Homo sapiens: one gene and its partners. The protein of the gene in region 4 purifies or fractionates together with the protein of the main gene of each other region. This does not show direct contact. Each region holds a gene or a part of one and is shown on either strand. Other genes may lie near its edges.

Region 1 (3,500 bases), on a different chromosome or scaffold from region 4:
ACTTTTTTTTTCAACCATTTGACAGAAAGCTTCTGTCACTTTTAGGCTATTTCCACTGTCACAGTAAAAACAGTTTGTAGCAATTCTTTAAATTATTACATTTGAATTCATTAGATTGAAAACTGTTCTGATTTTCTAAATTTTTGAACAGTAATATCACATCCTCTGCCAGCCAGAAAGTTTTATAATCTTGAAAAGAACTTTACTTTTAGGTTTAAGTAGACAAAAATAAAAATATCAGGAACTTTTTCTTCCTATATTAATAAAACAAAGGGCACAAGGCAGGGAGGATGGTGTAAAGAATCCTGCCTTGGAGTCAGGCAGAAACTGCTTCCGTACAGGCTAGACCAGGGGCCCCAACCCCTGGGCCATGGACTGGTATGGATCTCTGGCCTGTTAGGAATAGGGCTGCCCAGCAGGAGGAGGGCAGTGGGCAAGTGAATGAAGCTTTAGCTGTATTTACAGCTGCTCCCCATTGCTTGCATTACGCCTGAGCTCTGCCTCCTGTCAGGTCAGCGACCGCATTACATTCTCACAGGAGCCTGAACTCCATTGAGAACTGCACATACAAGGGATCTAGGTTGCCCGCTCCTTATGAGAATCTAGTGCCTGATGATCTGTCACTGTCTCCCATCACCCCCAGACGGGACTGTCTAGCTGCAGGAAAACAAGCTCAGGGCTCCCACTGATTCAACATGATGGTGACTTGTCTAATTATTTCATTATATGTTACAATGTAATAATAATAGAACTAAAGTACACAATACATTTAACGTGCTTGAATCATCCTGAAACCATCCCCCTGACCCCTGGTCCATGAAAAAATTGTCTTCCATGAAATGGGTCCCTGGTGCTAAAAAGGTTTGGGACCGCTGGGCTAGACCACTTGCTAGCTGGGTGACCCTGGAGAAGTTACCTAACTTCTCTGAGCCTCAGCTTTCTGTTTTCTTTTTCTATAAAATGGAGGAAATTGGAGACAATACTGCATGTAAAACACTGGGTATGCGGTGGACAGCATTCGTTCATTTGCTGACAACTTTTATCAGGCTAAACTGTCATATCCACTATTTCAATATGTCAATTACTCTTATAAATTGCACTAGGACAGAAAGATTGTATTTCTTCTCTGGGGACTAAATAGTGTTTAAAATAACCAAATCACTAGAAATGGATTTGTCCGTCTGGACTGGCTGAACTCTAAGAGGAGTAAGGCAATTCAAAACAGAAAAGACCACAATCAAAAGCAAACCCAGGGCCGGACATGGTGGTTCACAACTGTATACCTAGCATTCGGGGTGGGTGGATCATTTGAGCCCAGGAGTTCTAGACTAATTGGGCAACATACCAAAACCCTGTTTCTACAAAATATACAAAAATCAGCTGGGTGTGGTGGCGCACGCCTGTAGTCCCAGCTACTGGGGAAGCTGAGGTAGGAGGATCACCTGAGCTCAGGGAAGTTGAGGCTGCAGTGAGCCATGATCACAGCAACTGCACTCCAGCCTGAGGGACAGGGCAATATCCTGTCTCAAAAACAACGACGACAACAACAAACCAAACCCAGGGCAGAAGCTGGAGCCGCAACCTCGATTTCAGCAAATCTGGAAATCAGGGCTCAGTAGGAACACCGGGGTGGGCTCCATAGCCTCCTTTTAGGTTAGTGACAAACGTGCTGGTCCCTGGACTCAGGAGATGCTTTCCCATGTTTCAGGACTGTGGCTGTGCAGCCACCCCTACAGAACACATTAGCCTCAGGCAGGGCACCAAGGCACTCCTGTGTTAAACCAGATAATAGCAGTTTTCCCCCAATTTGCTGGAATGTGAATATCATATTCCTCAAAGTTTTCCTTCATGCACTTTTCAACTTTTGTTGCCTGCTCTTCCTTGCCTGCTGATGAGCAGTCACAGTGACAAAAGGAATTTAAAAACCGCAAAACAGTATCAATGGATGACTTGACAGCAGCTGATGAAGTATACTTCATTGGAGAGCTTCATTTTAATTGCCAAGCGCTGTTTGCATTCAGTTTAGATGATGAAAATTAAACATACTAATTTCTGTTTTTTTTCTGTGAAGAGCACTCTAACTGCCAGGCCCTCTGATTTCTCAGTCTGAGAACTTTCTTTAGGCCCCTGGTCTGAAGGTAGCTCTAAGCAGCCTTAGGGTGGACTAGAGATTCTCAGCAGAACTAAATACAATGTAGACTTTCTATTTTTGGTCATTCTGACCCCAGTCCCTATAGGGAAACCTGAGCAGTTGCTTGGCACACATTTTATCAGTAGCTGCTCTAACCATTCCAATTTGCTCCATCAGTTCCTTCTGGTCAAATTCCCACTGTATGGCCCTGGTCCAGCCCATCACTGCCTCTTGCCTGGATTACTGAGGCAGCCTCCCCGCACAGCCTCCACTGAATATTCTCATTCTCCTTCAGCCTATTCTCAACCCACCACCCAGAGTCACACAGATAAAACCTAAGTCAGACTGTGCTGCTCCTGTATGCAAAACCCTGCCTGGCTTCTTACCTCTCAGACTAAAACCCAGGTGTGAAACGCCAGGGCTGCCATCCACGCTCTGCCGTCTGTGGCCTCCTGACTCCCTTCCTACTGCTCCCCACCCCTCCCACTGTGCCCCAGCTGCACCTGCACCCGTAATGCCTGTAACACACCAGGCAAACTCCTGCCTGTGGTTCCCTCTGCCAGAATATTCATCACCGATACCCACTTGGCTCACTCCCACACCTCCACCCAGTGCTCTTCCCCGGCTGCCCTACCCACACGCCCTAGCCCCATTGCCCCCTTGCCCTCATCACCACTGCACATACTACATACTTTATTTACTTGTTTATTTTCTGCCACCCCCAGTGGAAGGCAATTTCCACTAAGAGGTGTGATATATGTGTTTGTTTTCTGGTTCACGGATCCGTGAACGCTGGTTCAACCTGTATTTATGGAATAAATGACAAAGTCCTGCTAACCCATGCCAGGGGCTGCCATGAGAATCCTGGACACGACAACTTGCGTGATGGCTTGTTTCGCAGCGTTCGCCGACTCCCCCAAGCGGTTCCCATTCTCATCCGTGACGGGAATGCCAACTTTGAGTTCCCTGCAGAGCAAAACACATACAGAGAGCTCCACCAATGCCTTCAATAAACGTCCTGAAATAGTACTATGTTGGGAAAGATCAACCCTCTACTTAATTCAAATACCCACTCAAGTGTCATTTTTGGTACTGACACATCTGTTTTTTTTTTTTTTTTTTTTTTTTTTTTACAGTCTCACTCTGTTGCCCAGGCTGGAGTGTAGTGGTGGCTATCTCCACTGACTGCAACCTCTGCCTCCCGGGTTCAAAGCGATTCTCCTGCCTCAGCCTCCCGAGTAGCTAGAATTACAGGCATGTGACAGTGTGCCGGCCAATTTTTGTATTTTTAGTAGAGACGGGGTTTTGCCATGTTGGCCAGGCTGGTCTTGAACTCCTGACCTCAGGTGATCCACTCGCCTCGGCCTCC
Region 2 (2,656 bases), on a different chromosome or scaffold from region 4:
GCCTCTGCCCTAGACCACCCCCTCGGTTCAGCAGGCCCAGGCTGGTCCCTCTCGGCACCCGTGCCACAGGAAGCCTGGAGCGTCCGGGACGAGGCGAGGCCCGTGCAGACCCGATGGCACCGCACACTCACGCCCCACACACGGATGGGACCTGGGCTCAGCCCAGCTACCAGCAGCTCACATGTGGGGTGTGGGGACCTCGCCGTCCCCATGTCCCAAGCAGCCAACGCTGGCACGGGTGAGCATCTGTGACTCTGGGAATACCCGTGCCAGGCAGGCCACGTTATCCCGAACCAACTTAACTGCCTATCAACAGGAAGCTCGTACATCACCGCGGCCCGTCTCTCCCTGTGACGTGCAGCCTCAGCCTCCTGCGTTCAAGTGATCCTTCCCCCCCGCAGTTTCCTAAAGTGTTGGGATTACATGCGTAAGCCACCATGCCCGGCCAAAGTAAGTACACTTAGCAACTTAAAAATACACATGGATCAAAGAAGACATCATACTTGAAATGAGAAAATATTTTGAACTGAATGGCAGTGAAAACACTACACATCAAAACTTAGGGAAATGTGGTTAGTGTGGTACGTTGAGGGAAACTTATAACCTCACGCGCTTGTTTCACAAAACAACAGCAGACAACAGAGATTTCCAACTCCAGCAATGACAGGCTAGGGTACCTAGATGAACCATCACACTGAAAACACATGCTGCAGTAAATACTGAATTTCTCCTTAAGAGCTGTGGGAATCTGACAAGCCAGGAAGGTAGAAACAAGGGAGAAGTGAGGGACCCAGGGGCCCAGGAAGGTCGTGAGCGCCAAGCACCCAGTGCTGCTGCCCCAGGGCGTGGCCAGTCCAGGCTTACGGGGCTCAGGTCCTAGGGGGCTGACCAGCAGGGTGGGGCAGACACCAGGCTCCAGCCCAGCCTCAGGTGAGAGTGAAGGGAGCACCTATCTGCAGCAAGCTGAAGCCCCCAAATCTAGGCCCTGAGGGTGAATCGGTACCAACCCCCTCGCCCTATCCTGAATGTGAGCGGGGAAAGTGCTCACCTGGCAAGATCTGGCCTGCGGCCCTTCAGGGGTCAGCATGACTTGTGTGGGTCAGAAAGCCTCAGCCCCAAACCCGGTCTCAGAGGCTTAAGAACCCTCTCCAGGAGGATGATCCATATAACAGCTCTCAAATAGGCCCCCAAATAATTCTTCACAAACACTTAACAGTTCAGGCCGGGCACAGAAGCTCATGCCTGTAATCCCAGCACTTTGGGCAGCCGAGGTGGGCACATCACTTGAGGTCAGGAATTTGAGACCAGCCTGGCCAACATGGTGAAGTCCTGTCTCTACTAAAAACAGAAAAATTAGGCCAGGCATGGTGGCTCATGCCTACAATCCCAGCACTTTGGGAGGCCGAGGTGGGCGGATTGCCTGAGGTCAGGAGTTCGAGACCAGCCTGGCCAACATGGTGAAACCCTGTCTCTACTAAAAATACAAACATTAGCCCACTGTGGTGGTAGGGGCCTGTAATCCCAGCTACTTGCGAGGCTGAGGCAGGAGAATTTCTTGAACCCAGGAGGTGGAGGTTGCAGTGAGCCAAGATTGCGCCATTGCACTGCAGCCTGAGCAATTGAGATTCCATCTCAAAAAAAAAAAAAAAAAAACCAAAAAACAAAACACACACACACACAGAAAAATTAGCTGGGTATGGTGGCAGGTGCCCATAATCCCAGCTACTTGGGAGGCTGAGGCAGGGGAATCGCATGAACCTGGGAGGCAGAGGTTGCAGTGAGCCGAGATCGCACCAACGCACTCCAGCCTGGGCGACAGAGCAAGACTCCGTCTCAAGAAAAAAATAAATAACAAAGAACAGAAGACAACATGACCCCACAAGTGAACCAGAGGGAAAGACAGGAACAGACCATTGGAGACTTTAGGGATGGTTAGTGATACCAGAGGCTAAAATAATCATGTGCCCTACCATGCACGCAGCCATGGTGGCCCGGGTCCTGCCACGCACGCAGCCATAGTGGGCTGGCTAAGCTGCAGGTTGTGCCTGAGCTCACGGACACGAGGAAGAAGGGCGACCGTGTCCTGGACAGCCCAGCTCGAGGCTGCTCTTCAGCCCCAGCCCCTGGTGTCCCGCAGCGGCTGCGGTGGCAGTGGTGGGGGAGCAGGCATGGCACCCGGAGCACTGGAGCCCAATGCAGGGTGACCCCTTCCCCCCAGCTCCAAATCCAGCATCCCTCCCCGGTGCCTAGCCCTCGCCAGGCTGCTGGCCCCATCGCTGGGAAGGAGTGGTTTGACCCCTCACCACTGAGAGGAGTAAGGTGTACTTCCTTGTCAAGCATGACTCCGAGCGGCACTTCTTCCACACCGCGCAGCTGCCTGTGCCTGGCAGGGGCCTCCTGCGGCCGGAACGTCCCCTGCATCCCCAACCACACCTGGCACAACACCATGGCTGAGGTGCGCTTCCAGCTGCACCAGCAGCCCACACGCCTCCTGAGCACCACTACCAGCTACCCCAAGCCCGTCTATACCAGCTACCCCAAGACCGTCTATACCAGCTACCCCAAGACCGTCTATACCAGCTACCCCAAGACCGTCTATACCAGCTACGCCAAGACCGTCTATACCAGCTACCCCAAGACCGTCTATACCACCACC
Region 3 (3,500 bases), on a different chromosome or scaffold from region 4:
GTATGTGTGTGTGTACGCACACATTTTGTTGTTGTTGTTGTTGTTTTTTGAGACAGAGCCTTGCTGTGTTGCCCAGGCTGGAGTGCAGTGGCACAATCTCGGCTCACTGCAAGCTCCGCCTCCTGGGTTCACGCCAGTCTCCTGCCTCAGCCTCCTGAGTAGCTGGGACTACAGACGCCCACCACCAAGCCTGGCTAATTTTTTTATATTTTTAGTAGGGATGGGGTTTCACCGTGTTAGCCAGGATGGTCTCAATTTCCTGACCTCGTGATCTGTCCGCCTCGGCTTCCCGAAGTGCTGGGATTACAGGTGTGAGCCACCACACCCAGCTACATGTTTTCAACTCTTTTTTTGTTTGGTTTGAGACAGAGTGTCGCTCTGTCACCCAGGCTGGAGTGCAGTAGTGCGATCTCGGCTCACTGCAACCTCCGTCTCCCAGGTTCAAGTGATTCTCCCACCTCAGCCTCCCGAGTAGCTGGGATTACAGGCGCGTGCCACCACGCCCAGCTAATTTTTGTGTTTTTAGTAGAGACAAGGTTTTGCCATGTTGGCCAGGCTGGTCTCAAACTCCTGATCTCAAGTGATCTGCCCACCGTGGCCTCCCAAAGTGCTGGGATTACAAGCATGAGCTGCTGTGCCCAATCAACTCTTTAAAAATGTAAAAACCATTCTTAGCTCAAGCGCTGTCCTAAAACAGGTTGCAAGCTGGATTTGGCCTGTAGGCCAGAGTTTGCTGACCCCTGCTCTAAGTGATCACCTGGGAATGTCCCCTGCTCCAAGTGATCACCCGGGGAATGTGGGAACCGACAGGCTTTTCTGGAGTTGGGAGTTTCTTTAAGATCTTATCTATTCCATCTATTAGACTCATTCATTGTGTTTATTCCTTTCTGTTGATGCATTGGTAAGAAACAGTATGGGAGAATAGATTGAAATATACAATGCTGTTTTCTCAGCATGATGTGCTATTTGCTCTTTATAAATGACAGGTGATTTAAAACAATTAATTGGTTATTTGCTGATTTAATTGGGATCTAATTCTACGTGGCTGGAAAAAATTTCCCCTGAATTTCTAAGTTTTTTGGATTTTTATGTCATCATTAATCTTGGATTCTTTCCAAAAGGAGCTCTAGGCTATTGTTTGTTTGTAGGAATTACCCCTCCTGAAGCCCGAGAGTTGTAATGGCTTACATGACTGAACGTTGGTCCCCTGTTAGTGTGGTTCTCTAAGAAACCTTAGGACTGTTGCCTTGGAAATAGTGAATTTTCCCCTCTCAATGACCAAGACACAGAATGTCTGTGTAGGGCATTTTCTGCAAAGAACAACAACAAAAACAATTGTTTTAAAAAGCTTTTCAGAAATATAAAAGTAGGGTGAATAGTATAATGAATTTTCATGAACCCATCACCTGGTTCTATAGTGATCAAAACATGAAAAGTCTTGTTTCATCCCAACTTCTACCCACTTATCTTACACTGGATACTTCTACCTGTGTAAGATTACTTTGAAACAAATTCTATGTAACATCCCTTTTCATCCAAAAATACTTCAGTGTATATATTTAAAATATAAAGACTTATAACCACAATAATATTCTCACACTTAAAAAGATTAAAAATAATCAAATATCTGCACATTTCTCATAATTTTTTAAACAGTTGAATTGTTAAAATCAATATCCATATATAGTCTACATAGTGCCTTTGTTTGCTAAATCTCCGAATCTTCTTTCAATCTATAGGCTCCTCTCTTTGCATTTTATTTGTTGAATAAACTGGATTGTTTGTACTGTAGATTTTCCACAATCTGGATTTTGCTGATTGCGTTCCCACACAGTTGTCTAACATGTTCCTCTGTTGCTTGTATTTCCTATAAATGAGTAGTAAGATCTGGAGGCTTGATTCAATTCTGGTTAGATTTTTTTTTTTTTTTGGAGGTGGGAAGAATACTTTATAGGTGATACTGTATAGTTCCTAATGAATCATGTGTGAAGGCAGAAAATGTCTAGTTGTTTATTTTTATGATATAAAGATAGGTCTTAAAAGTACCTTTAAAATTTTTTGTTTTTTTTAATTGACAAATAATAGTTGTACATATTCTTGGGGTACATAGTGATGTTTCAATATGTATAATGTGTAATGATCTGATCAGGGTAATTAGCATATCCATAATCTCAAACATTTATCATTTCTTTGTGTTTGGAATCTTTTTTTTTTTAATTTAAAAGTAAACTTTAGCACACCAACATGGCACATGTATACATATGTAACAAACCTGCACATTGTGCACATGTACCCTAAAACTTAAAGTATAATAATAAGAAAAATAAATGTGAACATAAACTAAAAAGAAAAAAAAAAGTAAACTTTAATGTCGAAAATGCAAACTTGGGAATCTTAAAAGTATCTTAAAAATGCTTTCTAGTTCTCAGTGAGTTCAAATGTTGTCAGACTGATCTGTTCATTGTAAAGTTTGTGTGAAAGATTTTTACTAGGGTTTATATTAAATCTGCTATTTTTATTGATGAAGCAGTTCAGACATTAGAACTTAAGTTATTGAGGTAGTGGTCATAGAAAGGTGAGACATTGCTCATCTGACTGACTTTCTCTCTAATAGCTGGAAGAAGAACTGAGACAGCAGAAAGAAGCAGCTTGTTTCAAGGCTCGTCCAAACACCGTCATCTCTCAGGAGCCCTTTGTTCCCAAGAAAGAGAAGAAATCAGTTGCTGGTAGTATTATATGTACTCTGATGGGACTCGGGCAGAATTGTCAGACTTCCCAGTGGGATGCTGGAATTCAGTGTGTCAGTACAATGCTGTGTCAACTAGAAGCATTTGACTTTAGCAGATGGTAGCTTTTCTTCCCCTAGACCCAGTTTTTTGCCTTTATTGAACCCAGCAGCTATGTTGAGTTGCAGGATGTGTTAGGGCCAGATTCATTTAACATGAACCTTGGCAGAAGCAGCTGGCATTTCAACAACAATGATAGGTTTTCCCCATCCACAGAGAAACAAGTAAATGAGGGAGGGAGAGCCAGTATGGCTTTCTGGAATTCACCCTGAAGCAAACTTTAGATATAAAACATTTGATTCCTTAAACACTGGGCAGTGTGCTAGAATACTGGGATTCCACCGGGTGTGGTGGCTCATGCCTGTAGTCCCAGCACTTTGGGAGGCCCGGACAGGAGGATCACTTGAGCCCAGGGATTTGAGACCAGCATGGGCAACATAGCAAGACCCCATCTCTTTTTCAAAAAAATCTTTCCAAAAAGGGAAAAAAAGAATATTGGGATCTTTCTTCTATGTCTGCCTCAAAATCAATCACTATATAGTTTTGTGCAAGCTACTTTATGTCTTTGCCTTTTTCCCAATTACACCAGACGATTTCCAGGGGCCCTTTGAACTCTTAAAATTCTAAAACTTTTTGTATTTAGTTGGCTCTACCTTTCTCCCAATGGGGCTTGTTTAGAGCACAGTCTTCCTGTTAGTGTGCATGTCTGTGCCA
Region 4 (3,500 bases):
GCTCACTGACAGCCAGCACGTCCAGGACGTTGGAGAAGAGGATGTGCGCCTCGGACGGGTGCAGGATCTTCCTTATCCGCTCGTTCTCCATGAAGTGGGACACGAGCAGGTTCAGACTCTTGTAGTAGGACGCCTCGGAAGTGACCAGCTCGAACATGGCCTGTAGCAGGGAGACCCCATGGTTACCGCCTGAAGTTGGCCTTCCACGAAGGCGCTAGCCTTGGCTGAGACAGAGGAGCAGAGGGAGGCTCAGCAGGGAGTTGAAAGGGAAAAATCGCCTGCTCCTGGGGCCTGGGATGGCTGCTGCAGGGGCAGCTGGTAACACCTGCGGCCGGGAATGGTAGTGAGGCCACTCTTCCTAGGGAGCACACTACCCCTAAGGTGACAGGGCACGGAGGCTACTCCCTGTGAGAGAACACTTACCATACTGACAACTGGAGATAGCCTAAGATCCAAAATATGAAACAAGACAAAAACGAGAGAGGTCAGGCTGGGCGTGGTGACTCACTCTTGTAATCCCAGCACTTTAGGAGGCCGAGGCGGGCAGATCACTTGAGGTCAGGAGTTCAAGACCACCCTGGCCAACATGGTAAAACCCTGTCTCTACTAAAAATACAAAACTTAGCTGGGTGTGGTAGCACATGCCTGTAATCCTAGCTGCTTGGGAGGCTGAGGCATGAGAATCACTTGAACCTGGGAGGCAGAGGTTGCAGTGAGCCCAGATCACGCCACTGCACTCCAGCCTGGGTGACAGAGTGAGACTCTGTCTTAAAAAAAAAAAAAAAAGGTCAGCCACACACCTGAGCCCGCACAGCTGCCAAGGGTGGCTTGGCCCATGCTCTGGGTGTGCTAGTGGGTGCGAAAGTCAGCAGGTGGGAGGAATCCTGTTCCTCCACGCCCAGCAGAAAAGCGTCAGGGGAAACCGGCCAGTGTCAAGCACGAGTGTCACGGGTGGAATCTGGGGGGATGTTTACCTTTTTACCTTTTGAATCGCCTGATAATTTAACAATGAACATATATCATGGTCTGATTTTATAATGGAACCAATAAGGTGATTTTCATTTTGGAAGAGAGAAAGAAATCCATAACCTGATCAATTTTCTGGAGGTGCCTTTATTCGATGTCATGATTATCACCTGATTGCTGAGCCTCTGAATAGCTGACTAGGATCTAACAGCAGTTCTGCATCTCATGGGTCATTCTGTAAGGGCAGGTGGCAGATCCCGGCTCACCTTCCTCCCTTGTTTACAAATCAACCCAATGACCCACCTTCCTCTTCCCCGTCACCCTCTGATACTTAGGGCGGGTTCAGGTCCCACAGTCGCTTCCCAGGAGGGACAGCAGAGTGGGTTGAACTGTGGCCCCCACAGAAGCTACATCCATGTCCTAACCCCAGCACCTGTGAATGGGACCTTATTTGGGAAAAGGGTCTGTGCAGACATAATTGAGTCAAGGAGCTCAAGATGAGATCATCCTGGGTTAAGGTTGGCCCCAAACCAATAATGGGTGTCTTTATAAAAGAGGCCAAGGGAGATTTAATAATGTGACACAGACACACAGAGAAGGCACAGACAGAGATGGGACTGATACAGCCACCAGCAGTTGGAGTTGGCCAGAAGGATCCTCTGCAGAGCTGTCAGAGGGAGCACAGCCTGCCCAGGCTGTGGGAGAATCAATCCTGTGATCCTCTGCCACCCAGTTTCTGGTAATTTGTTATGGCCACAGAGGAGGGGTGGAAACAGAGCAGTGAGGAGCCTGGGGTAAGGGTGAGGGTGGGGGTGAGGGTAGGGGTGAGGGTGGGGTAGGGGTGAGGGTGAAGGTAGGGGTGAGGGTGAGGGTAGGGGTGTGAGGGTAAGGTTGGGGTTGAGGGTAGGAGTGGGGGTGAGGGTAGGGGTTGGGGTGGGGGTAGGGGTGGGGGTGGGGGTAGGGATGGGGGTGGGGGTAGGGGTGGGGGTAGGGGTGAGTGCAAAAGTAGGGGTGAGGGTGAAGGTAGGGGTGAGGGTGAGGTTAGGGGCGTGGGTGAAGGTAGGGGTGAGGGTGAAGGTAGGGGTGAGGGTAGGGGTAAGGGTGAGGGTAGGGTTGAGGGTGGGGGTGAGGGTGACGGTGGGTATAGGGGTGAGGGTGTGGGTAGGTGTGAGGGTGGGGGTAAGGGTAAAGGTAGGGATGAGGTGAGGGTAGGGGTGAGGGTGAGGGTACAGGTGAGGATGGGGGTAGTGGTGGGGTTAAGGGTGAGGTAGGGGTGCGGGTGAGGGTAGGGGCGAGTGTGGGGGTAGGAGTGGGGGTGAGGTTAGGGGTAAGGGTGGGAGTAGGGGTGGGGTGAGGGGTGAGGGTTGGGATGGGGTGGGGGAAGGGGTGAGGGTAGGGATGGGGTAGGGGGTGGAGGTGGGGGTCTGGCCCCTTCCCCAGGGTCCTGCCCATCCCCTGCCTCACTCCTTTTAGGGCCGCCCTCCGGTTTCTCCACTCATCAGAGCCCTGACCCAGGGCCCAGGGCTTTGGCATGAAAGCAGGAGCTCCAGGGTTAGAGGCATTTGTTCCCAGAACACAGTGGGCCCTGGAGTGGTGGGGTTTTGCAGGCTGTTTCACTTAATCCTCCCAGGTCCCCCAGAAAGGACAGACAGAAGCTCCCATTTTACCAAAAGGAAACAGACACAGAGAAGTGAAGTTGCATCCAGAAAGTCACATGGCTGGATGCTGGAGGAGTGGAGATGCTGCCACCTCCCAGGTAGCGCAGGGGTTTGCTGGGCATTTGATGCCCGCCTGCAGGAGCTCTCACTGCTGCTTCCCTGCAAAGCTCTGCCCACCCACCCACCTGGCAGAGCACTCTAAAATAAGGGACGAATCTGGAAGCTGGGAACACCCCACAGAGAGTTCACATTGATGTCACTCCAGGGCCAGCGGCCAACTGCAGACCCCGAACCACCATCAGTAGCCAGGGCCCACCCGGCCCCCAGTGTCTGCACCTCACTTGAGACAGTGACAGTCAGAGATGAGACGCTGAAATGAGCCTGTGGCCTCTCCGTGGCCATCCCCACGTCGCATCTGCCTCATCTACCTAAAAAGCAGCCACAGCAAGCACACAGCAGCACCTCACTTGAGACAGCGACGGTCAGAGACGAGACGCTGAAATGAGCCTGTGGCCTCTCCGTGGCCATCCCCACGTCGCATCTGCCTCATCTACCTAAAAAGCAGCCACAGCAAGCACACAGCAGCGGGCCTCACAGCAGCAGACCTGCAGCCCAGCGCTGACTGGCAGCAGACCCCGAGTCGGCCAGTGTCCACCGACACAAAAGTGAGGCTATGACGGGCAGCCAGTTTCCCAGAAGCTTCTCAGCTACAGATGCTGTTATGAATTCATTTTCCTGCTGCTAAATTTAAGTTTCCTAAGAAAATGTGAAGCAGTTACAGCTCACAAGTTCCAAGCAAACATAACTCACAAAACTGATACGAATGATACCAAGGGGAAAACCCCCATGCCCACAGCGCCACATCACAGAAAAGCA
Region 5 (3,500 bases), on a different chromosome or scaffold from region 4:
GTAATCTTAGCACTTTGGAAGGCTGAGGCGGATGGATCACTTGAGGCCAGGGGTTCAAGACAGCCTGGCCAACATGGCGAAACCATCTCTACTCAAGATACAACAATTAGCTGGGCGTGGTGGTGCACATCTGTAGTCCCAGCTACTCAGGAGGCTGAGGAACGAGAATCGCTTGAACCCAGGGGCAGAGGTTGCAGTGAGCCAAGACTGCACCACTGCACTCCAGCCTGGGCAACAGAGTAAGATCCTGTCTCAAAAATAAAAATAAATAAATAAATAAATTTTTGTTGGAATACTACTTTAAATTCTTTGGAATAGAAGAATACCTAGAAGTGGAATTGCTGGATCATATGGACAGTCTATGTTTAATTGTTTCAGGAAGCACCAATCTGCTTCCCACAGTGGCTTCACTGCTTTACATTCCCATCAGTAATGTGTGAGGGTTTCAATTTCTCCATATCCTTGTCAACATTTGTTATTTTCCTTTTTTTATTATGACCATCCAAGTGGGTATGGAGTGGTAACTCACTGTGAGCAGGTTCTTTCTTATAATACATTTAACTTTATACTTAAAAAAAAAAAAAAAAAAAAAACTTAACTATTTGCCCTTAAATTTTTCCTTTTATGCACTGCTTATCCTTTTGGATGGCCTTTGAAAAATCTACTTATTTATATATTACCTCAAATAAGTAATTTAATCTTCCTTTCATATGCTAAAACTATGACATGTTGTACTTCTAGCCAAGTGACAGAATAGGGTTCCTTTCCTACTAATTTTCTATAAAGTCACATAGTCTATACTATAGCATAGCAAGACCTTGTATTGAGGAAAATTCAGCAATCATCTTTTTAAATGCCCATTTTACACCTGACAGAGAAGGCATAATTTAAAGAATTTTAGTTTCATTCTTAGCTACACAACACTTTTCTCAAGTTTTGTTATATAAAAAGGGGGTATGGGGGAGGGATACATATATATCTGCTTTAAGGGCAAATCAGTTTCTTTATCAAACTTTTGCAATATTTAACCATACGTGCAAAATATATCTTTGAAATAGGTCCCAAGAGAATCAACTGAATTTTCTATTATAGTAATGTCTAATAAAATGTCAAATTTGATACATAACAGTCTATCAATTGACACACTGTTAAAGGTATCCCCACAACACATACTCTGCTTAGTATCAGGTTTCCAGAACTCCAGAAATTCCAGAATATTGTTTCTTATTAAACAATAAGGCCTGATGAGAAAGTAATTTAAGTACACCTTTTAAACCTTTTTCAAATTTTATATTATAGAAAATATATTTTGAGGAAAGAATCTAACATTGCAATTTCAGTTTTTTCAAATATTACATATTAAAATGTCTATAATGTCATAATTAGGGAAAAAGTTATTTTAAAATAAAAGGGAAAAATGAATACAAAGCAAATTTCTGTTACAATCATATGGAGGTTTAAGAACAGGACTTCTAGAGCATGACTTGCTCTGGAATAAATACTGGCATTACCATTCACTGGTTGTTTGACTTAGGCAGCAAATTATTTATCTATTCTGTGCCTGTTTTCTCAGCTGTAGAGGGTTTGATACACAACCACAAGGATTCAGGAAAAAGGAATGGACCAGGTTATGTACATTTTAAAAGTATCTTTGGGTATTCATGACCAATTATTAACTGCAATAGGGGATTTACAGATCTAACTTCTACAATCATAATTGTTATGTAGTTTCTGTATATAAACATGAAAAAATTACCAAAAAGTATGGAATTTTAAAAAATAAAAAGTATCCTGAATCATAGCAATTATGTTTTCTTACTTACTGGGTGATTTGCTGAGGCTTATCTTCTCCATAGGTTTTGCTAGTTTGGGTTTCTTGATAAAGGTTCCACTGGGCTTATTAAATGGCTGCATCATTTTTCTCTTTATTCCTCTTGCAGCAGCAACTGTCACATTGGTGGATTTGTTTTGATAGTCAACAACAATTCCGGGTCTATGAATGCTTCCAAAATCACCCATATGCTGTAAATTTGTGAAATCAATAAATATTAGCATATTGTCCAAGAAAAAATATGAATTCATATAAAATTTTCATGTTAACTATCTACTAATTTTCACCTGAAAATTCCCTGGAATGTAACTAAATTTTACATGTCCATTCTGAAAAAACACATTGAAAAACTCTGTAAATTATTACATAAACTCAAATCCATTGAATTAGTATTTTTATTTCCAGTAGAACAAATAATGAATATTTGCTAACTATGTTTTTACTTTTACATTTCAAAATTACTTGAGATTATAGACAACATATGTGCCTGTCCAAATGTTACCACTTGTACAACTCTCTGACAACTCCTCTTCAGAGTTCCTAATTGATGTTTTCCCATGAAAAGACCCTAAAAGAAATCTTTATTTTACTAAAACTAAGATACACAAAGAAGACCATATTTGTAGTTTGAAGTAAAAAAGATCCAGAAATCATTTAGTATTCTCCCTGTTGAAAAAGGGAATGAGAAGGCGAGATGGAACATTAGTATGAAATAGGAGAGTTAAAGCATAACCATGCATCAACTTCCAAGACACACTTCAGATAAAGAATTGCATCTGACGTTCCATTCACATTCTTACCTAGAGAAACATTTTCTGACCCAGAAGCCCAAGAAACAAAAGTTTACAGATGAAGAGTCATGCAACCAAACGACTCTTTGTGTCCCTTCCTCTTCTCTTGTCATTATCCAAATCTACTACACCAAGAGGCCACATGTCCACAGAAATTTATTCTGCTAATCTTACTTTTAGAAGATAAAGATGGAGGAGTAATCTGAAGAGAAGGACCCAAGGGGAATTGTACAAGTGAAGATTTAAAATGTAGGTCCTATTGGCTCATCTACTTCACTAACAGGAGGAAAGAAAGAAAAGTCCATTCAGACTAGAATGGTAAATACAAAGTACAGGAATACTTGTTTATTATGAAAACGAAATTTACTTTTGAAGCCTCATTAAGAAAACACACTTTGTCTAAAATAATATACAGCATGGAAAATATTAAGTGTTTTCCAAATTTTCAAACTAGAATGGATTTTCAATTCAAAACCCAAAGCCTATCATCCCAACTATTTTCAATTAACCTATGATCATGAAGTATAGTGGAACTGTAATGTATCAGTTGCTTACATTTGTATACTATGCTCAGGAATGCCTATCTAACCTAGTTGTGTTTCCAGGTAATTTAAAAAGTCACAACAGGAAAATCTTCCTTAATTACGCATTAAAGGTGCAATGCATTTTTACATAAGTAAAGAGTAACTGTTAAAAATGCAAAATTTCTACACAAGTATAACAAGCTACACTGACATATCAAAAGCTAATAACCAGTCAAAAACGTGTACCCTACTACCTTTTTTACTAGAAATACTTTCCTCTGCAAATAAAATATTAAGAGCAGCTGACTTAAAAGGATTCTTACATTATAACAAAAATACAATACTCTTTAAATG
Region 6 (3,500 bases), on a different chromosome or scaffold from region 4:
ACTATTTCAGATTTCAAGATGGAGGAAAATGGGGGCTCCTGCGTTCGCCCTGCATAGAGTGACATAAGTAGATATCACGGGATTCTTGACCCCTAGCCAGTGGCTCATCTTGTTTGCTAGGCTTTCTTTGATTATTTTTTCTTACTGACTTTATCCCTTGATTTAAATCCCTCTATAAATATTAAAGGGAATAAACGAAATAAATAAATGAAATCCAGGGATGTTAGAAGATTTTCTTTAGTTTTTCACTTTCTTTCCACTCATGATAATTGAGCATAGACAAACATGCAGTTCAGCCGAGCGTGGTGGCTTACACCTGTAATCCTAGCATTTTGGGAGGCTGAGGTGGGAGGGTCACTTGAGGTCAGGAGTTTGAGACCATCCTGGCCAACATGGCAAAACCCCATCTTTACTAAAAATTGGTCGGGCGTGGTGACACATGCCTGTAATCTAATCCCAGCTACTCAGGAGCCTAAGGCATGAGAATCGCTTGAACCTGGGAGGTGGAGGTTGCAGTGAGCAGATAATGGGCCACTGTACTCCAGCCTGGGTGACAGAGCAAGACTCTGTCAAAAAAACAAACAAAACATGCAGTTCATCTTTCCCTCAGTAGATATCGAAAGAGTGGGATAAAAGGAAAAATATATATGTGTGTGTGTATATGTATACATATACACACACACATATACACATTATATATACACATTATATATACACGTTATATATAATTTTGTATGTATATAAAATAATGTGTATATATGTTTGTGTGTGTATATATATATATACACACCAAATATATATATATATATACACACACATACACCAAAGACTATAAGTCATTAAGATATCTTTGCATAAATCACTATTAAAACATGGTGGGGGCCGGGCACGGTGGCTCACGCCTGTAATCCTAGCACTTTGGGAGGCCGAGACGGGCGGATCACGAGGTCAGGAGATCGAGACCATCTTGGCTAACACGGTGAAACCCCGTTTCTACTAAAAATACAAAAAATTAGCCGGGCGTGTTGGCGGGCGCCTGTAGTCCCAGCTACTTGGGAGGCTGAGGCAGGAGAATGGCATGAACCTGGGAGGCGGAGCTTGCAGTGAGCCGAGATCGCGCCACTGCACTCCAACCTGGGAGACACAGCGAGACTCCGTCTCAAAACAAAACAAAACAAAACAAAAAAACATGGCAGGGTTTTGTTGTTGTTTTTTGTCTTTTTTTTTGAGACAGGGTCTCGCTGTGTCTCTCAGGCTGGAGTGCAGTGGCGCGATCTCGGCTCACTGCAACCTCTGCCTCCCAGGTTCAAGCGATCCTCCTGTCTCAGCCTCCCTAGTAGCTGGGATTACAGGTGTGCATCACCATGCCCAGCTAATTTTTGTATGTTTAGTAGAGTCCGGGTTTCACCGTGTTGGCCAGGCTGGTCTCCATCTCGTGACCTCAGGTGATCCACCCGCCTCGGCTTCCCAAAGTGTTGGGATTACAGGTGTGAGACTCCAGGCCTGACCAAACATTGTGGCTAGAGTAGTATTTACATCTTCTGCATTTAGCAGTGGGAATTTGTGACTGTCCAGGAAACAAAACTTCAATAGAAACTGGTACCCCTCTCCAAAACAGCATTTTGCCTACTCATCATTTTGTAAAGGCTAAATAGGCAACTGTGTAACCTGCGGTTAATAGAGTATTAAGTTAAATTCTTTTGAGCTAATGAAGTCATGTTCTTCATGTTTGTTGTTATCAATGGCTATAACCCAGCTGATTCTACATCTATATACCCATTGTTTGTTGTTTAAAAAAGAAAGAGTTGTTTCATCTGATTTTTTTTGAGCCCAGACTTGGGCATTTATTATCTTCTAAGCTTGAAACTGTTTCACCTTTAGGGTTTGGCTAAGCCAAGTCCATTTTTTTTTTTTTAGCAAGCATATTAAAATATTTTATACAATATTTTGGATTTGGATGGAGAATAAGCAAGATCTTTAATTTTCTTTAGATTTGACTTCTAGTGCCTTTTTAAAAACGTTTATTTTAGGTTCAGGGGTACATCAGGCTTGTTACAGAGGTAAGTTGCATGTTGCAGGGGTTCGGTGTACAGATTATTTCGTCATTCAGGTAGTAAGCATAGTACCTGATAGGTAGTTTTTTGATCCTCACCCTCCTCCCACCCTCTACCCTCAAGTAGGCCCCAGTGTCTGTTGTTCCTTTCTTTATATAAAGCATATCTAGGACTGCATTTTTATTCATTAATATATTTATATACAAAATACTTTATAATTTCTTACATTTTATACTCCTTTGGATCTGTAACATTATTATCATTGTGCAAAAAATATTCTCACATTATATAAGCTGTATTTTATGGTTACAGAGCTCCATTTTATTGTTAATGATTTCTTTTGATTTGGCTGTTAATTTCTTTTGATATCTGAACAGTGTATGGGTTTCGACAGACCATGATGAAATTGAGAATGTGGCCAAACAATTTGGTGCACAAGTTCATCGAAGAAGTTCTGAAGTTTCAAAAGACAGCTCTACCTCACTAGATGCCATCATAGAATTTCTTAATTATCATAATGGTATGAATTTGATTAATAGTTTATTCAAACCTTTATGTACTTTTCTACTTCCTTTATTATCTTATAAGACTTGTTTTAACATTTGAATTCCAAACCTTAATATTACTTGCTTGCAAGGAACTTTTTTTTTAAATATCCTTTTCATTTCTCTTGTCTTTTTAAGAGGTTGACATTGTAGGAAATATTCAAGCTACTTCTCCATGTTTACATCCTACTGATCTTCAAAAAGTTGCAGAAATGATTCGAGAAGAAGGATATGATTCTGTTTTCTCTGTTGTGAGACGCCATCAGTTTCGATGGAGTGAAATTCAGAAAGGAGGTAATCTCTTTTCAGTCTTTATTTTAGCTGATTTTATTGAGAATCAATTTTTTTGTATATAAATATCCTTTAGGCATGAGGAGAGTAAAAGGGGAGCTGTAAAAGAGAGTATTTGACTCATTACTTTAGTAGGTAATGACATTTACAATCAGCTGTAAATCTGTTATCGAGCCAACACAGCTAGACCAAATTAATTCTTTGCTTTACTCTTTACAAAGGGACATTCTAATCCTCTTATTTCTGTTTGCCTTTTGAGGCAGATATGCTGTTTTTCTAGATCAAATACTTTTATGTTTGTTCTAGACATGTTTGATGAACTCCATACAAGTCATATAGAGATAGAAAGCATCCACCAAAGTGTTCTGAAGGATTTCAAGAATGACATTTTGAAGTTCTTCCCCAAATTCCTAACTCCATATATAAGAAGGGTTCCCTAGGGTTTACTAGGCATTTTGCCTGCCATGTCCAGTGTGCTATAAATCTTATCCAGAGAATTATTATAAACACTGTGTTTTTCCATTCAGTAATGTACATTTTAGTTGTTTCGTAGGGATTCCATTTTCTGTTGAAATTTTCCATTTTTTTATCCATTTTAAAAAAAGGTCAT
Region 7 (3,500 bases), on a different chromosome or scaffold from region 4:
TCCCTAGCTCATCTAGAACACACAGCTCATTGTCCCTCAATTACTGACTCTAGGAAGGCCAAGGAACTGTGCTTTCTATATACCCTGAGTAGAATGTTAGCTCTATGAGGGCATAGACTTGACTCAATTTGTCCAGCACTATATCCTTGGTGTCTGCATAGTACTCAAAAAATTTTGCTGTATGAATAAATGTAATGTATTCAGGCTCTCCAAAATTCATCCCAGTATTTATGAAAACTCTATTTTATTACTACAAACCTTGTTATCTAGCTAACCACCCTTCCTGATTAAATCTAAGCCAGATCATCCTCAATGGATCATTACTTAAGTCTCTTGACAACAGTTTTTCCTACTTTTTTTTTTTTTTGTTTTTTTGAGACAGTTTCGCTCTTGTTGCCCAGGCTGGAGTGCAATGGCGCAATCTCAGCTCACCACAACCTCCGCCTCCCAGGTTGAAGTGATTCTCCTGCCTCAGCCTCCCAAGTAGCTGGAATTACAGGCATGTGCCACCACGCCTGGCTAATTTTGTATTTTTAGGAGAGATGGGGTTTCTCCATGTTGGTCAGGCTGGTCTCAAACTCCCGACCGCCGGTGATCTGCCTGCCTTGGCCTCCCAAAGTGCTGGGATTACAGGCGTGAGCCACCGTGCCCGGCAGTTTTTCCTACTATTAAACCATGTAGTGTATATGGTTACTGAACCTTGACAATCACAGAGATTTGTGGGAGTATAGCTGACAGAAGAAGCAAAAGATAGCCACCCAAATTTCTATTTGGTTACTAAAAAAATAAAAGAGGCAGATGCAGTGGCTTACGCCTATATTCCCAGTACTCTGGGAAGCAGGAGGATGGCTTGAGGCCAGGAGTTTGAGACCAGCCTGGGCAACACAGCGAGACCCCATCTCTACAAAGAAAACAAAAAGAAAAAAAAAAGAGATACCTAGAATAGTCAAACTCAGAGACACAGAGTAGAAGAGTGGTTGCCAGGGGCTGCGAGGAGGGGAGAATAGGGTGTTATTGTTTAATGGGTACAGAATTTCAGTTTTACAAGATGAAAAGTGTCCTGTGGCTAGATTGTGGTGATAGTACCAAAAGAAGAAAACAAAATGAGGTGGGCACAGTGGCTCACAACTGCAGTCCCAGCACTTTGGGAAGCCAAGGCAGGAGGATGGCTCGAGCTCAGGAGTTAGAGGTCAGCCTGGACAACAATGAAAGACCTGATTTCTACAAAAAATACAAAAATTACCCAGGTGTGGTGGTGTGCACCTGTAGCCCCAGCTACTCGGGAGGTTGAGGTGGGAGGATGGCCTGAACCCAGGAGTCGGAGGTTGCAGTGGGCCGAGATCATGCCAATGCACTCCAGCCTGGGTGACAGAGTGAGACTGCGTCTCAAAAAAACAAAACCAAAACAAACAAAAAAAACACACTTGGGGAAATTCAACTGCATTTTTGTATTTTTTCTCTTAAAAAAGATTTCTTCATTTCCTGCTGGGGTGCCAAAAAATAAAAATTTAAAAAAGAACCCTTTTGAAATACCTAATTTGAAAAGAATTAGCTGAATAGAGCCATAAACAAAGTTTAATGAGTATTTGTTTAAAAAAGAACAACCCTAAGTGGTTCTTAGTAATAACATCCATTGTTTTATACTGACCAATAACCACTGATGATTTTGTTATGTGCCCAGTACTATGAGGGACATCCCTCACGTATACCCGCCTTTCCATCTCCACCTCCACTATTGCAATTATTTCCTAAAAAAAAATTTCTGATTATTGGGAGGCCGAGGTGGACGGATCACAAGGTCAGGAGATCAAGACCATCCTGGCCAACATGGTGAAACCCCATCTCTACTAAAAATACAAAAATTAGCCAGGCGTGATGGCGCGCACCCATAGTTCCAGCTACTTAGGAGGCTGAGGCAGGAGAATCTCTTGAACCCAGGACACGGAGGCTGCAGTGAGCCGAGATCGTGCCACTGCACTCCAGCCTGGATAACAGAGCGAGATGCTGTCTTAAAAAAAAAAAAAACTTTATTATCAAGCTCTCACAGCACTACTAGAGTGATCACTAAGTCAAAATATACTGAGTGCCTATTTTGTGCCAGTAACTGCTCTAAGGTGCTAAGGATACAGTAATGGAATCAGATGCAGCCATACTCAGAGTTCACAGTCTGGCCCAGGAGAAAGAAAAACTAAATCATGTAATTCCAGGTAGCAAAAGTGCTATGAAAAGCAAGCAAGAGGGTAAGAGGCAAGCTATTGCAGACTTAAGTCAGGCAAGGCCTCTCTGAGATGAATGACATTTGACAGGTAATCCTCCCCTGACTACTGTCCCAAGAATGTCTGTTTTATTGGAAAAGTAATGTGGATGTACATCCAGATGCTTCATCTAAAACCAGCAAATCTTCCATAGTCTATGAGAAGTGATTCTGTTTAGTAAAGCATAAAATGATGAAGTAATAGTGAGACACACAGTGAAAAGAGAAAAGCAAGTTTTACCTCCTTTGGTAGAGTAGCATAGTGTGTGTTAATACCGTGGAACCAGAAAAAGTCTCACAGAAGGGAGGTCAGTATTCAGATGCTTATCGAAAACCCTTTCCAGGTTCTTCCAGAACACACATTTCTGATTATGTCACTCTCCTCAATTCCATAGCTCTCCACAGTTAATCATGCTGGAATGAGACCCTCCATTGTGGCATCAAACTACTTTACCATTCATATTTCCCAGGGTCTCTCCACACGTACTCAGTTTTCCAGGAAAACAAGCACTCTAGTGAATCCTCTTCCCTCTAACTGGATCCCCTTCACATCAAATCTCTTTCCTATAAACTGTGAGTACCTACCAAAGTCCTATCCTTCAAAGCATATCTCAAATACCAACTCCTAAAGACATGAATATGATATCCCCAAAGAAATGGCATCTCCTGGCTGGGCACGGTGGCTCACGCCTGTAATCTCAGCACTTTGGGAGGCCGAGACGGGTGGATCACGAAGTCAGGAGATCGAGACAATCCTGGCTAACATGCTGAAACCCCATCTCTATTAAAGATACAAAAAAATTAGCCAGGCGTGGTGGTGGGCACCTGTAGTCCCAGCTACTCCGGAGGCTGAGGCAGGAGAATCACTTGAACCCGGGAGACGGAGCTTGCAGTGAGCCAAGATCGCGCCACTGCACTCCAGCCTGGGCGACAGAGTGAGACTCCGTCTCAAAAAAAAAAAAAAAGAAAGAAAAAGAAATGGCATCTCCTTCCTCAAACTCCCTTTCCAGTCCAACTCCGTATTATAGGATTCATGGCTGAAGAAACAGGCTTATTCACTTTTCTCTTATAGCATGTTTTCAATATTAGATACTCATTTATTCAATATGTAAAAGACTAAAGGAGATCTACAACTAGGCTGAAGAGAAACAGTCAAGATGGCATCAAGTCCTATTTGGTATGGTTCTAGGCACTAAATCCTATGGCTGGCTGGGCAAGGTGGCTCACACCTGTAATCCTCGCCCTT

Evidence for each region.
Region 1: the proteins of NGEF (region 4) and SFXN1 purify together in Homo sapiens (affinity purification with mass spectrometry, with the first as the bait; one large-scale study listed by BioGRID). This does not show direct contact.
Region 2: the proteins of NGEF (region 4) and LRPAP1 purify together in Homo sapiens (affinity purification with mass spectrometry, with the first as the bait; one large-scale study listed by BioGRID). This does not show direct contact.
Region 3: the proteins of NGEF (region 4) and TPX2 purify together in Homo sapiens (affinity purification with mass spectrometry, with the first as the bait; one large-scale study listed by BioGRID). This does not show direct contact.
Region 5: the proteins of NGEF (region 4) and ZNF326 purify together in Homo sapiens (affinity purification with mass spectrometry, with the first as the bait; one large-scale study listed by BioGRID). This does not show direct contact.
Region 6: the proteins of NGEF (region 4) and CMAS purify together in Homo sapiens (affinity purification with mass spectrometry; one large-scale study listed by BioGRID and IntAct). This does not show direct contact.
Region 7: the proteins of NGEF (region 4) and DDX42 purify together in Homo sapiens (affinity purification with mass spectrometry, with the first as the bait; one large-scale study listed by BioGRID). This does not show direct contact.

What each region holds. Positions count from the first base shown.
Region 1 is NC_000005.10:175,513,060-175,516,559, reverse strand, and holds part of SFXN1 (sideroflexin-1), read right to left. Parts: intron 3,098-3,500; coding exon 2,970-3,097; coding exon of another isoform or gene 2,965-2,969; exon of another isoform or gene 2,824-2,964; intron 1-2,823. UniProt on the Homo sapiens protein: Amino acid transporter importing serine, an essential substrate of the mitochondrial branch of the one-carbon pathway, into mitochondria.
Region 2 is NC_000004.12:3,503,112-3,505,767, forward strand, and holds the end of LRPAP1 (alpha-2-macroglobulin receptor-associated protein precursor), read right to left. Parts: 3' UTR 501-2,656; downstream 1-500. UniProt on the Homo sapiens protein: Molecular chaperone for LDL receptor-related proteins that may regulate their ligand binding activity along the secretory pathway.
Region 3 is NC_000020.11:31,794,790-31,798,289, forward strand, and holds part of TPX2 (targeting protein for Xklp2), read left to right. Parts: intron 1-2,614; coding exon 2,615-2,726; intron 2,727-3,500. UniProt on the Homo sapiens protein: Spindle assembly factor required for normal assembly of mitotic spindles. Required for normal assembly of microtubules during apoptosis. Required for chromatin and/or kinetochore dependent microtubule nucleation.
Region 4 is NC_000002.12:232,894,757-232,898,256, forward strand, and holds part of NGEF (ephexin-1), read right to left. Parts: intron 161-3,500; coding exon 1-160. UniProt on the Homo sapiens protein: Acts as a guanine nucleotide exchange factor (GEF) which differentially activates the GTPases RHOA, RAC1 and CDC42. Plays a role in axon guidance regulating ephrin-induced growth cone collapse and dendritic spine morphogenesis.
Region 5 is NC_000001.11:90,008,610-90,012,109, reverse strand, and holds part of ZNF326 (DBIRD complex subunit ZNF326), read right to left. Parts: intron 2,023-3,500; coding exon 1,824-2,022; intron 1-1,823. UniProt on the Homo sapiens protein: Core component of the DBIRD complex, a multiprotein complex that acts at the interface between core mRNP particles and RNA polymerase II (RNAPII) and integrates transcript elongation with the regulation of alternative splicing: the DBIRD complex affects local transcript elongation rates and alternative splicing of a large set of exons embedded in (A + T)-rich DNA regions.
Region 6 is NC_000012.12:22,052,718-22,056,217, forward strand, and holds part of CMAS (N-acylneuraminate cytidylyltransferase), read left to right. Parts: intron 1-2,431; coding exon 2,432-2,574; intron 2,575-2,737; coding exon 2,738-2,893; intron 2,894-3,500. UniProt on the Homo sapiens protein: Catalyzes the activation of N-acetylneuraminic acid (NeuNAc) to cytidine 5'-monophosphate N-acetylneuraminic acid (CMP-NeuNAc), a substrate required for the addition of sialic acid.
Region 7 is NC_000017.11:63,777,170-63,780,669, reverse strand, and holds part of DDX42 (ATP-dependent RNA helicase DDX42), read right to left. Parts: intron 1-3,500. UniProt on the Homo sapiens protein: ATP-dependent RNA helicase that binds to partially double-stranded RNAs (dsRNAs) in order to unwind RNA secondary structures. Unwinding is promoted in the presence of single-strand binding proteins.